Regions from separate parts of the Homo sapiens genome. Here region 2 is linked to region 1. Evidence: fine-mapped expression QTL. A gene starts in region 1. The other region holds a variant in brackets. All regions are shown on one strand. Distances are between the middles of the regions. Region 1 holds the start of UBE2V1 (ubiquitin conjugating enzyme E2 V1). Region 2 holds the start of PEDS1-UBE2V1 (PEDS1-UBE2V1 readthrough).

The links. PIP is the estimated chance that this variant, and not a neighbour inherited with it, causes the effect. A credible set is the group of variants that fine-mapping cannot tell apart.
Region 2: its variant is the best candidate, but not a certain one, in a credible set for the expression of UBE2V1 in whole blood (TOPMed, PIP 0.50).

The regions. Positions count from the first base shown.
Region 1 is chr20:50,109,960-50,115,324 of GRCh38, forward strand. It overlaps UBE2V1 (ubiquitin conjugating enzyme E2 V1), which reads right to left and starts at 3,191. Exons shown (of 4, transcript NM_001032288.3): 1 at 3,148-3,191. The coding sequence starts at 3,169. The region is part of intron 5 of PEDS1-UBE2V1 (PEDS1-UBE2V1 readthrough); the gene reads right to left. RefSeq lists a silencer at 2,719-3,258 and enhancers at 3,429-3,538, 3,543-4,110.
Region 2 is chr20:50,149,349-50,154,713 of GRCh38, forward strand. PEDS1-UBE2V1 (PEDS1-UBE2V1 readthrough) reads right to left here and starts at 4,375. Exons shown (of 8, transcript NM_199203.3): 1 at 4,169-4,375. The coding sequence starts at 4,289. It overlaps PEDS1 (plasmanylethanolamine desaturase 1), which reads right to left and starts at 4,375. Exons shown (of 6, transcript NM_199129.4): 1 at 4,169-4,375. The coding sequence starts at 4,289. RefSeq lists a silencer at 4,129-4,808. The variant G/C (reference allele first, on the strand shown) is at 3,215.

The DNA.
Region 1 (5,365 bases):
AGTTTTCATCCATTTCCAGCTCTCTCTGGGGAAGACTCTTGAATGGAAGGGAAGACTAATCTCTGCTGCCCACATGGTTAAGTTTTTATAAGCTGAATGTGCATATGAGGCCACTCCGATGTATGCAAATTTAAAATCATGCCCCACCAGGGCTTACCCCTCTGGCACTCATTTTCTGATTAAATGTCAGGGAAGCTCGTGGGCTGCTGAGTGAGAGGAAGGGCCTGGCAACCAAGGGCCACTATTTGATGTGCTGCAATCCTGGCCAAGGCAGGAGGAAGTCACCCGTCATAACATGGGGATTCTGAGGATCTGTGGTGGGCTTTTCACAGTTCCACCCTCTAAGACATATGTAGATATCACACATTGCAGAACCAAAGGAAGTGGGAAGGTGGTGTAGCCAAATGCTGAAAGCAGTGACCATAAAAAACTAAGTTCAGCCCTTACAGGAACTCAAAGGCTTCACAGCTGTTTCCTGGCAACCGGAGGCACAGATTAATCAAGAGCCTCACTCTAAACCTGACTAAGGAAGGCCTCTGGGCCCTGACCACACCTGGAAGACTTCTCAGGGTTAGAAAGCAGAGAGGCCTGTACACTCATTTTAGTTTACCCCAAGTAAGGTCTGCTTTACTCTTAGCACCCTGCACTCTTTTCACTGCCTAGGGACGAAGGTCAGATCTTATCATACTCCTCTTTTTAAGACTCTTATTCATTCATTCAACAAATATTTACTGAATGCCTACTTCATACCAGACACTTGTTTGATGGCTTCCCCTCATACCATCTCAAATCCAAAGCCATGTCTCTCCAACTCATCTCCTTAACAAGCCTTGCTTGCACATGAAGGCCTTTTATCCTGTTATTTCAACATGCCAAGCAGAGTCCCACCACAGGGCCTTTGCACTAACAGCCCACTCTCTCTCCTGCCTGTGACACTGTAGGGTTAGCTCTTTCCATTATTTGACTCAGCTGAAATGTCACTTTCCTGACCACCTCTCCAGACACTATCACATCACACAATTTCCTCCATAGCACTTACTGCTATCTGAAATTGTCTTATTTACTCCTTAACAGCCTTCTCTCCCTGACTTGAATGGAAGCTCCCGAAGGATACAGACTATGTCCATTTTGTTTGCTATCCACGATGGGACATAATAGGCCCTCAGTAAATATCTGTTGAATAAACAGACAAAAGAATTTTGGGAAGTCCATTTTAGGGCACCTCAAAGCCTGTCCTATGTTATCTAAACCATGCCAAGTGCTCTTGTATTCCACTAGACAGCAGCTGACATTTTATCTGATCACCATAGCCATTTATGAAGCACTCACTTTTTAACTGTCAGGGTCTGGAGAAGTTAGAACCGGGCAGCTGTTAACCCAGATTGTAGGTAGCCAACCGAGTGACTGCAAGCAGGGCTGAGCTGCAACAGCACCTTATTGCTGGCTACCACCAGCACACTGGGCCCCTTCGTTTATTACGACCCGGTAGGAGTGTTATTCTGGTGAGAAGTTTTACCCAGCAGTCTGGCCTGACTCAGAATCTCTCTTCTGGGAGTGCCTGGGGCAGCGTCATGGTAAATGAATTGACTCAGCACTGTTCCAGCTGAAACCAAAATCGAGTAAAAGGATTCATGGTCTCCGCTATTCTGCAAGAAGACCCCACTGTTTTAAACTCAAAAGGCAGCAGCTTGTGGTGGGTCACTTCAGTCAGATCCCCCACATTCAATTTCTTTTATTCCCACCCCAACCATCAGGCAAGTATGGCTCCTTGAGACCGCAGAGTAGCAACATTTATAAAGAATTCCCCTCACCCTATTTCCCATGGATCACCAATTCCTTCCCAACACTGCCGCTGCTGTGGCCTTAAATATGCCAATGATTGCTGTACTCAGGCTGGTGTCCCTGCAGCCCCACAGTGGGGAACACTGTGGCCCTGTTTGCTTCCTCCATCAGAGAGGTAACCCATTTTCACCCCATCTGAGAGAACCTCCTTGGCCAACTTCACTGCCAGGCACCTGAGGGTGCAGCCTCACCCAAGAGTTCCCATTTCATCTATTCACCTCCCTACTCCCATCAGCCAGTGGGGAACTTCTGAGCTGAACCCACATATCTGTCCCAATTATTAAAGGAGTCGATGAGAGTGAGCGTCTCCACAGAAGAGACACTTCTAGGATATGCTTCCCTCACTCAATTCAAAAAGAGGAGACTTTTCTCCTTTACAGGAAACATCTCCGGAACCCGACCTTTTCCACTCCCTCATTTCAGGGGCTTCCCTCAGTTGAATCCCCACTCCCAAAGAGACATCCTCGGGGCTCCCAATTCATCTGTTCTCCCTCATCCAATATCAGAGGCTTCCACCAACTGCCCCACTCGGACCTTGTCCCCTGAAACCTAACTTGAAGCAATCCATCTGTATCCTCGAACAGGAGACTGGTAATGATGGGGTCATTTCACTATCACCGCTATTAGGTCCCTCTGGCATCTGAATCCTTTTCCCTCCTCTCACTTATCATGCGGAGACCCCCTTCATTCTCCCCAAAAGCAGCTGCTCCAAGGCTCCTCCTTTCTAGTCAACATAGCTATTTCCTCAGCTAACCCCATCTCTAAAACTAACGCCGGAGCCGTTCCCTCAACCGATAGGGGATCCTCTCAAGTCACCCCCTCAGGATCCCGTTTCTTCCATCCAGCCTGAAGGGCTTCTCTGATGTCCCCTCCAGACATCCCAAGGCCCCTCTCAGCCGCACCCCTGGCACCCAGTATGGGACTTCCATCCGCTGTGGGGCGCCTCCTCTAGGGGACCTCTAGATCGCCCCTTAAGAGTCGCCAGCCCCGGTATCCTCAGGAGTGCCTCGGAGCTCGCTCCTCGCCCACTCCGGCTCCCCCAGACAGCACAGAGGGCCCTCACGCCTCCCGGGGGAGCCTCAGGGCCTCGCCGCGCCGCCCACAGGCCCCTCAGCCCCCCGCCCGTGCTTCCGGCCACCGCCTGCTCCTCCTCCCCCGGTCAGGCCGCGCCGGTGGCTGCCGCGGAGCCCAGCAGACAGAGGCGGCGCGGGGACCCTGGCTCCGCTGCAGGAGGCTTTGAGGGTCCCCGGCCCCCGGCCCAAGCCCATGCCCCCTCGGCCGGCCGGGCCCGGCGCCCCCGCTCACCCGAGCCCGTGGTGGCTGCCATCTTGCGTCGCTCTTGCTTGAAGGCCGGCCCCTTCTTCACCCCCCCCTTACCCGTCCCCCGGCCCTGATGCGCAGGCGCGCGCGCACGCACATACGCCGCCGCTGACGCCCGCCCCGGAGACCTGCACGACCCGTGGCCTGGAAGGCTCTTTTCCTTCCCTTTTAGAGAAAGGAAATATCTGCGTGCTCGAGGGCCCAGCAACCTGCAAGTCCCCACACATCGGGTGCGAGGGAGGTTGTGATGTGCTTAGTGAGAAGGGCAGGGGTGACTAGGCTTGGGAAGGCGCGATTGTGAAAGAAAAAGAAAATATAGCTTCAAACAAAAGCGCCGAATTCGCTTGGGGCTTTTTCCTGTCTAGTTCCTATCTAGATCCTCACCACATCTCCGCAAGGTCAGAATTAATGTGAAAAATGCAGCCGAGAGAGATCAAGCGATTTATCTAAACTCAGCTGTTAAGTGGCAGAGACAGGCAGAATTTTAACCTCCAGGTTCAAATTTTTTGAATCATCACCCTCCAGGTCAGATGATCTGGCTCCTAGGATTGATGCTCCCCGGCCAGAGAAGGCTTGGAGTGGGTGCAGCTAAATGATTTAGGGGCATTAAGGTGGCAGGGAAAGCATTTGCTAACCATCTACCCAATTCATTCATTCATTCATTCATTCATTCGTTCATTCATTCATTCAACCAAACAAACAAACATTAAGCACCTACTATGTACCAGACACTGTGCTAGGCGCTGGGGATGGATAGACATCTCTGAAGAAGCAAATCCCTGCTTTCAGGGACTTACATTCTAGTCGTAGACAGCAAGTAAATAAACAGGAAACTATAATTCTGATAGGGTAGAGATAAACCAAGACAAGAGCAGCAGAGGATGGTCAGGAAGGGCCTCCTAAGGTGGTCATATTTCAGCAGAGACCGTAACAATGAGGAGGTAGAGGGAACAGCTTGTGCAAAGGCCCTTGGGAAATATTTTTGCAAATAAATAAACCCAAGAAGGTACTCCTCCTTTATTATAAATTGTCTGAGAAGCCCTTATATGGATGTAGACACTGAGGCTGAGAGAGGTGAAGGGACTGGCTTAAGGTCACAGAGCAAAATACTGGCAGAAGGACCAGGACTCTAAACATAGAGGGACAAGGAAGCTGGAAGCCCTCACCCAGCACATCCAATTCATCACCTTTGTCTGATAGCAGTGCCTACTCTGCATCTCTCCACTCCGTTCACTTCTCCACTCAGGGCAAGCTGCCTTTATCTCCCACTTGGAAGACCCCAGCAGCTTCCATTCTCTCCCCTATGGCCCATTCTCCATATAGACCAACATCTGCTCAAAACACCCTCCAGCTAAAGCCTTCAGTGGCTCCCCATTCCCTCTGGATAAAATACAAACTTTACAAGTTGAGCGACCATAGAATTATCACCTAATGAGGACACACATCAGATTAAAAGGGGACTTATTATAATCTCACCAGGACAAGTGGAAACCAGGGCTCTCCAGGGCAAAGCAGGATGCCTGGACACCCTGTGCACCAGGCTCTGCACCCAGGGCAGGGACGAGGATGGGGTGGTCAGATTTAACGGGGCTTTCACTCAGGTCCTGACTCCGCACTTGCACAGCGCTGCAGGTGAGTGACTCCTTAAAATCTGCACCCTAGGGCAGGGCATGGTGGCTCACACCTGTAATCCCAGCACTTTGGGAGGCCGAGGTGGGCAGATCACCTGAGGTCAGGAGTTCCAGACCAGCCTGGTCAACATGGTGAAACCTCGTCTCTACTAAAAATACAAAAATTAGCGGGGCGTGGTAGCACACACCTGTAATCCCAGCTACTCGGGAGGCTGAGGCAGGAAAATCGAGCGAACCCGGGAGGCAGAGGTTGCAGTGAGCTGAGATTGCACCATTGCATTCCAGCCTGGGCAACAGAGAGAGATTCAGTCTCAAAAAAAAAAAAAAAATCTGCACCCTAGGTACCCCACTTGCCTCACCATAGCCTTGGCACAGCCTGCGCCTCTGAGACTTTCTGTACCTCTGCGGCGACACTGGCCCTTTGCAAGCCCCCTGGAACACATGCCCTCTCCCACTTCAGGGGCTTTGCCTGTGCTGTTCCCACTCTTCAGTTCTCAGATCCAGCACCATCCCCTCAGGGAAGCCTTCCTCGATTCCTCCAACCACATCAAATTCAGCTATAATTAGCTCTC
Region 2 (5,365 bases), 39 kb after region 1:
GGATCAAGGACCGTGAGGCTGCACCCATGAAGCCTGGGGCACCTGAGAAGTAGCACACACATGGCCAGATTTCAGCTGGGACCTCCTGGGAAGCTGGACACCCGCCTCACCCTCTGGCCTGCCAAGCTGGCCAGGCCCTTCACAAACCCTGACATCTGGCATGAGGTGGGCTGCTGCTGGGAAACTCAGCCCAGAACAGGACAGAACGGCTCCTGGGTCCTGCAGGACCAGGGCTCAACCTCTGGGCCAGACACTTGGGGCCTGCGAAATCAGGCTGTGGCCGCCTCCCTGCTGCACCTGTCACCATTCCCTCAGCCCCATGCTGCTCTGGTCCAACTACTCACAGCTCCCTACACACAGAGGCCCATTCTCTGCCACCTGCCCTGCACACATGCTGTTCTGATGATCCGGAATACTCGCCCCCACCTCCCACACACTCACCCCTGGCTGGCTGACTTCCATAGTGAAGAGTAAGAACACAGAACCTAGCGCACCCCCACCCGGCCCAGTCCCGGGTTCCAGGCCTAGCCCTACTGCTGCCCGGTGCCCCGCCGTATGACCTCAGGCAGCCTCTCCCATTTTCTAAGCCTCAGGAAATGTTCCAACAAAAGTGGACTGGGTGCTCATGAGGGGCCAAGCACTTTAATCAAACCAAATAGGTTCAGTCCCTGTCCTGCTGGCCTTCCCATCAGGTGAGGGCAGATGCGGGCCTAACCCCGATCAGGGTGAGCTTTAGGAAGAGCATGCCTGGGGTGGGGGTTGGGAGGGGTTGCAGCCTCCTCCTCTGTGAATGCAGTTAATATCAAGGTACAGCTCACACGGTTGTAGTGGGGATGCACGGAGAGCAGGTGAGGAAAATGCCAGCACAGTGAGGCTCAATCACTCGGCTATGTTGATTGCCATGATTATGGCTGTCAACTGTCACAGTGCCAAACCACCTCCAGCCCCAGTAATCTCAAACATTCTGCTCCTAGAACCCAGGAACTTCTTCTACTCTTCCCTCCAGCCTACATGTGTCCTCCATATTCCCTAAACATGCCTGGCAAGCTCCCACCTCAGGGTCTCTGCATTTGTTGTTTCCCTGGTCTGGACCAACCCTTCTTCAAATATCCTCAAGGCTCCCTCCCTCCAGTCCTTCCTCCCTTCAGGCCTCACTTCGAATGTCACCTGCTCAGGGAAGCCTTCACTGCCCCCTCCCTAAAATGTCATTCCTGTCCCCAACATTTCAGATCCCCCTCTCCTGCTATGTATTTGCTCCACAGCGCTTGCCACCACTGGGCACGTGAGACAGTTATTTGTCAAGTTTATGGCCCGGCTATTTACTAAAATGCCAGCTCCGTTTTTTTCTTTTTCTTTTTTTTTGAGACAGAGTCTCGCTCTGTCATCCAGGCTGGAATGCAGTGGTGTGGTATTGGCTCACTGCAACAACCTCCGCCTCCTGGGTTCAAGAGATTATCCTGCCTCAGCCTCCTGAGTAGGTGGGATTACAGGGGCCTGCCACCATGCCCAGCTAATTTCTGTATTTTTAGTAGAGTCGGGGTTTCGCCATGTTGGCCAGGCTGGTCTCGAACTCCTGACCTCAAGTGATCCACCCACCTCGGCCTCCCAAAGTGCTAGGATTACGGGTGTGAGCCACCGCGCCCGGCCAGCTCCATTTTTTTCTGTCTTGTTCACCATTCTGCCCCCAGAGCCTAGAACATGGACTAGAACATAGGTGTTCAATATGCACTGAGCCTGGTCTCTCACTTTTTCAGGCCCAGAGAGGTCAAATACTTCCCCAAGATCACACAGTGAGCAGATAGAAGCAGAGAGGCCAGTGGAAAGGAAGTTGGAGAAACCAGTTTGGCAAGTCTCCTCCCCTACCTCCAGGTCTGGAGGAGATAAAGGGCCTTGATTGCAGATTTGGGGCACCAGGCTGTCTGCAGACTCTGATTCAGGCATGGCTGTTCTTCAGAGAGTGAAGGGCACTTGGGGAAACCAGAAATGGACAAATATGCAATTGATCGTGGTGGAGTGGGGAAACAGCAATCCCTGGGGAGGCTCAGAATGCCTGGGAATGATTTGGGCTGTCTGAAAGTAGGTAGGGTTCACAGGAGCAGGCAGAGCTGGACACTAAAGAGGGAGGCCCTTGAATCCTTATCCCCAATTCCCAGGTGGGGAGTTTGAGGACCAGAGAGGTGAGGCGGATCCCCCACAGCAAAGGTCAGACTACTGTTAACAACAGGGAGGCGCCAGGCACAGTGGCTCACGCCTGTAATCCCAGCACTGTGGGAGGCCGAGGTGGGCGGATCACAAGGTCAAGAGATCGAGACCACCCTGGCTAACACAGTGAAACCCCATCTCTACTGAAAATACAGAAAATTAGCCGGGCATGGTGGCGGGCGCCTGTAGTCCCAGCTACTCAGGAGGCTGAGGCAGGAGAATGGCGTGAACCCGGGAGGAGGAGCTTGCAGTGAGCCGAGATCACGCCACTGCACTCCAGCCTGGGCAACAGAGTGAGACTCCATCTCAAAACAAATAAAACAAAACAAAACAAAAAACAACAAAAAAACCCACACAACAACAGGGAGTGCCTACTGAATGCCAGTGGACGATCTCATTTCCACTTCCTAACACGAAGGGGCAGATAAACTTTAACTTGCAAGGAAACCAAGGGGAAACAGAGACGGAAAGTGGCTTGGACCAGGTCATACAGCTGAATAACAGAGTCAGGATGTTAACCCTGGCCTACCCCCAGGAGAGCAGGAGGTTTTAAGTCCATAGGCTGGGTGTCTTGGGTATAGGCCTGAAGAAACCATAGCGGCATGGACCAGGTGCCCAAGTCAGGTGTGAAAAATCACATACAGAGAATGGAGTGGTCTAGGACCCAGTGAGGAAATGCAAATGGTCCGTGGCCATGCCGCCTTTTAAGGAAGAGACGGCATGGAACCCAGGCCAGTGAGGGCAGAAAGCTAAGGTGCTAGTGACCCCAGGCCCACTCCAGGCAAGGGCTGCATGTGGTGCTTGGTGGCTGCCCCACAGAAAAAGGAAGGATGTCAGGATATTTGACAAACAAAGCTTCATTCCATGGTGACACCCAGGTAGAGGTGCCTCCCAGTCACCTGAACCAGGAGTTCTCAAAGGCACTTCCTTAACTCCTGGGGATATAGGGCCCTCCTGAGGCCAAACAGTAAAATTCCTAGGGCTCACGTAGGAGTCACAAAAGTGGGTGTAG[G/C]GGGGGTGCTTGCTGGAGCATATACAGTGAGCAAAGCAGGAAGAAGCTAGGGAGAAACCGTGGCCTGAGGGAAAGGGACAGAGAGGGAGAGGTGAACTCCAACTTATGATCTGGTCTGGGGAATATGGGGGTTCCAGTCCCAAGTCCTAAGGAAGGGGCCAATACATGGATGTGAGGGAGGGGCAAGAGCTAGAGTTGGGGCTTATGTACAGGGGAGCTTACAGTGGGGTACATTCAGTCCCCTCACTGCCTGGGATCCAGGAATATGGGGCAAGGACTGATGCTCACCACTGGAGGGTTGGGGAGAGGATATCGGTCTGTAGCCACTGAAGCTATCACTAGGATGGGGTTTTGGGGGAAGGGTGTGGGGGGTACCGTGCAGCTGGAAGCCCCTGAGTTAGGGTTCCCTGGGCAGAGGGGCTGACATTCCCAGGTTAGGGAGGTGAGGTCATTGTTTGCAGCCCAGGGCCTGGGCTAGGGCACAGAGGAGGTACTAGGATGTAGATTCCAGATCTGGGGAACCCAGGATGAGGTGTGACTTTTAGGGGCCTGAGGGCAGTGCTTACAGCTGAAGGGCAGCTTTGGGCTTGGACCGGGTCCTGGGGGGATGAGGGGGTGGGGTTCTAAGTCTAGGAGCACTCTTCACAACCGAGAATGCCCCGGGGCTAGGATTCCGTATCTGCGGGTCCGATGGGAGCTCCGTTTGTCGCCCAGGGAGCTCATGGTAATTTCTTGATCTGGGGAGTGTCTCTGCAGCCAGGAAACCCCGGGGCCAAGGTTCTGGCTTGGGTTCGGAAGGGACACTGGGGTGGGGTCCCCGAACTTGCTATTTGCAAGTTAGACACCCGGGCTGGAGTTCCGCATCTGGGCCCGAGGTTGGGACTCCAGTCTGGGGTCGCTGTCCGCAGCCGGGGCTGGTGACCGCAGGCCTGGAGGGGGGCCCAGAGGTCTTACCTGGCGAGTAGAGCGCAGCCAGCTCGCGGGCCCCGGCGTGCTGCGCGCCCCAGCGGCAACAAGACGCCTCGTCCTCGTCCAGCTCCAGCTGCTGGCCCGGCCAGTTCTCGGCGCCCGCCATGGCCACTCGCCCGATCGGCCCGGTGCGCTCTGCTGGCGGCGGCGGCGGCAGGGCCGCGGAACCGCGGCGAGATCACGCCGCCCAATGACCGCCCAGCGCCGGGCGCGGCGGCGGCGCGGGCGGGGTCCTCGCCCGGCCGCGCGTCACAGCCAATCGGGGCTCGCGCCGGAGCCGCGCAGGCCAATCGGACGTCGCTGAGCCGCAGCCAACCGCCGCGAGCCGGAGGCTGGGACGCAGCTGGACGCAGCTGGGCGCGGAAGCTTGGGGCGGAGGCGCGTGCCCGCCTTCCCAGCTCAGCCCCGGCAGGGCTCCCGGCTCCAGCCCACTGGGAGCTCGCGGCGCGTCGCCGCCCAGCTAGGCTTCGGTTCACGGGCCCATGCAATGGGCCGAGGCAGGGCCCAGAAATGGGCATTTCTTGAGCCGGCAGCGTTAAGCGCCCACTGTGTGCAAGGAACGCGAGGGCAGGGCGCCGGGCTGGGGCCGAGGCCAGGAAGCATTTGGCGGGTGCTCTGTACGATGCTCCCTAGCGAGGCCGATGGAGAGTGGGCTGGTTTATCAAGCCCTACTGTGTGCAGAGGTTTCGGGTGCCATGTGTTCATCAGCTGTGTGCCAGCTCTGTGCTGTGCGCCCAAAGAGGAGAAACGTCGAGCCTGCCCCGCATCCTCCCCAGCTCATGTTCTCCCGGTGGCGAGGACAGTAAACTAATGAAAATGACAACTAGGGTCACTATGAGATTTGCTGAGCGCTTAATATCTGTCAGGTGCTGGACCAAGAGCTAGACGAGCAACATTTATTTGACTCTTAAACACCAATGGTATTGCCTCCTCAGAGAGCCCCACCACCACCACCCTGCTCAAAGGTGCCCCCTCCTCCAGTCACTGTGACATCACCCTGTTTTGTCTTCACAGCGCTTCTGGTGGGGATTGAGCTTGCAGTCCCTGTCTCTCCTATCAGAGAGCAAGCTCCTGAGGGCAGAGAACAGCTTTGTTTACAGCAGGGCCCCCGTGCCAGGATCGGGGCTGGAACATGGTAGAAGCTCAATAAATGCTTGATGAATGAATTAAGGCTCAGCCAGA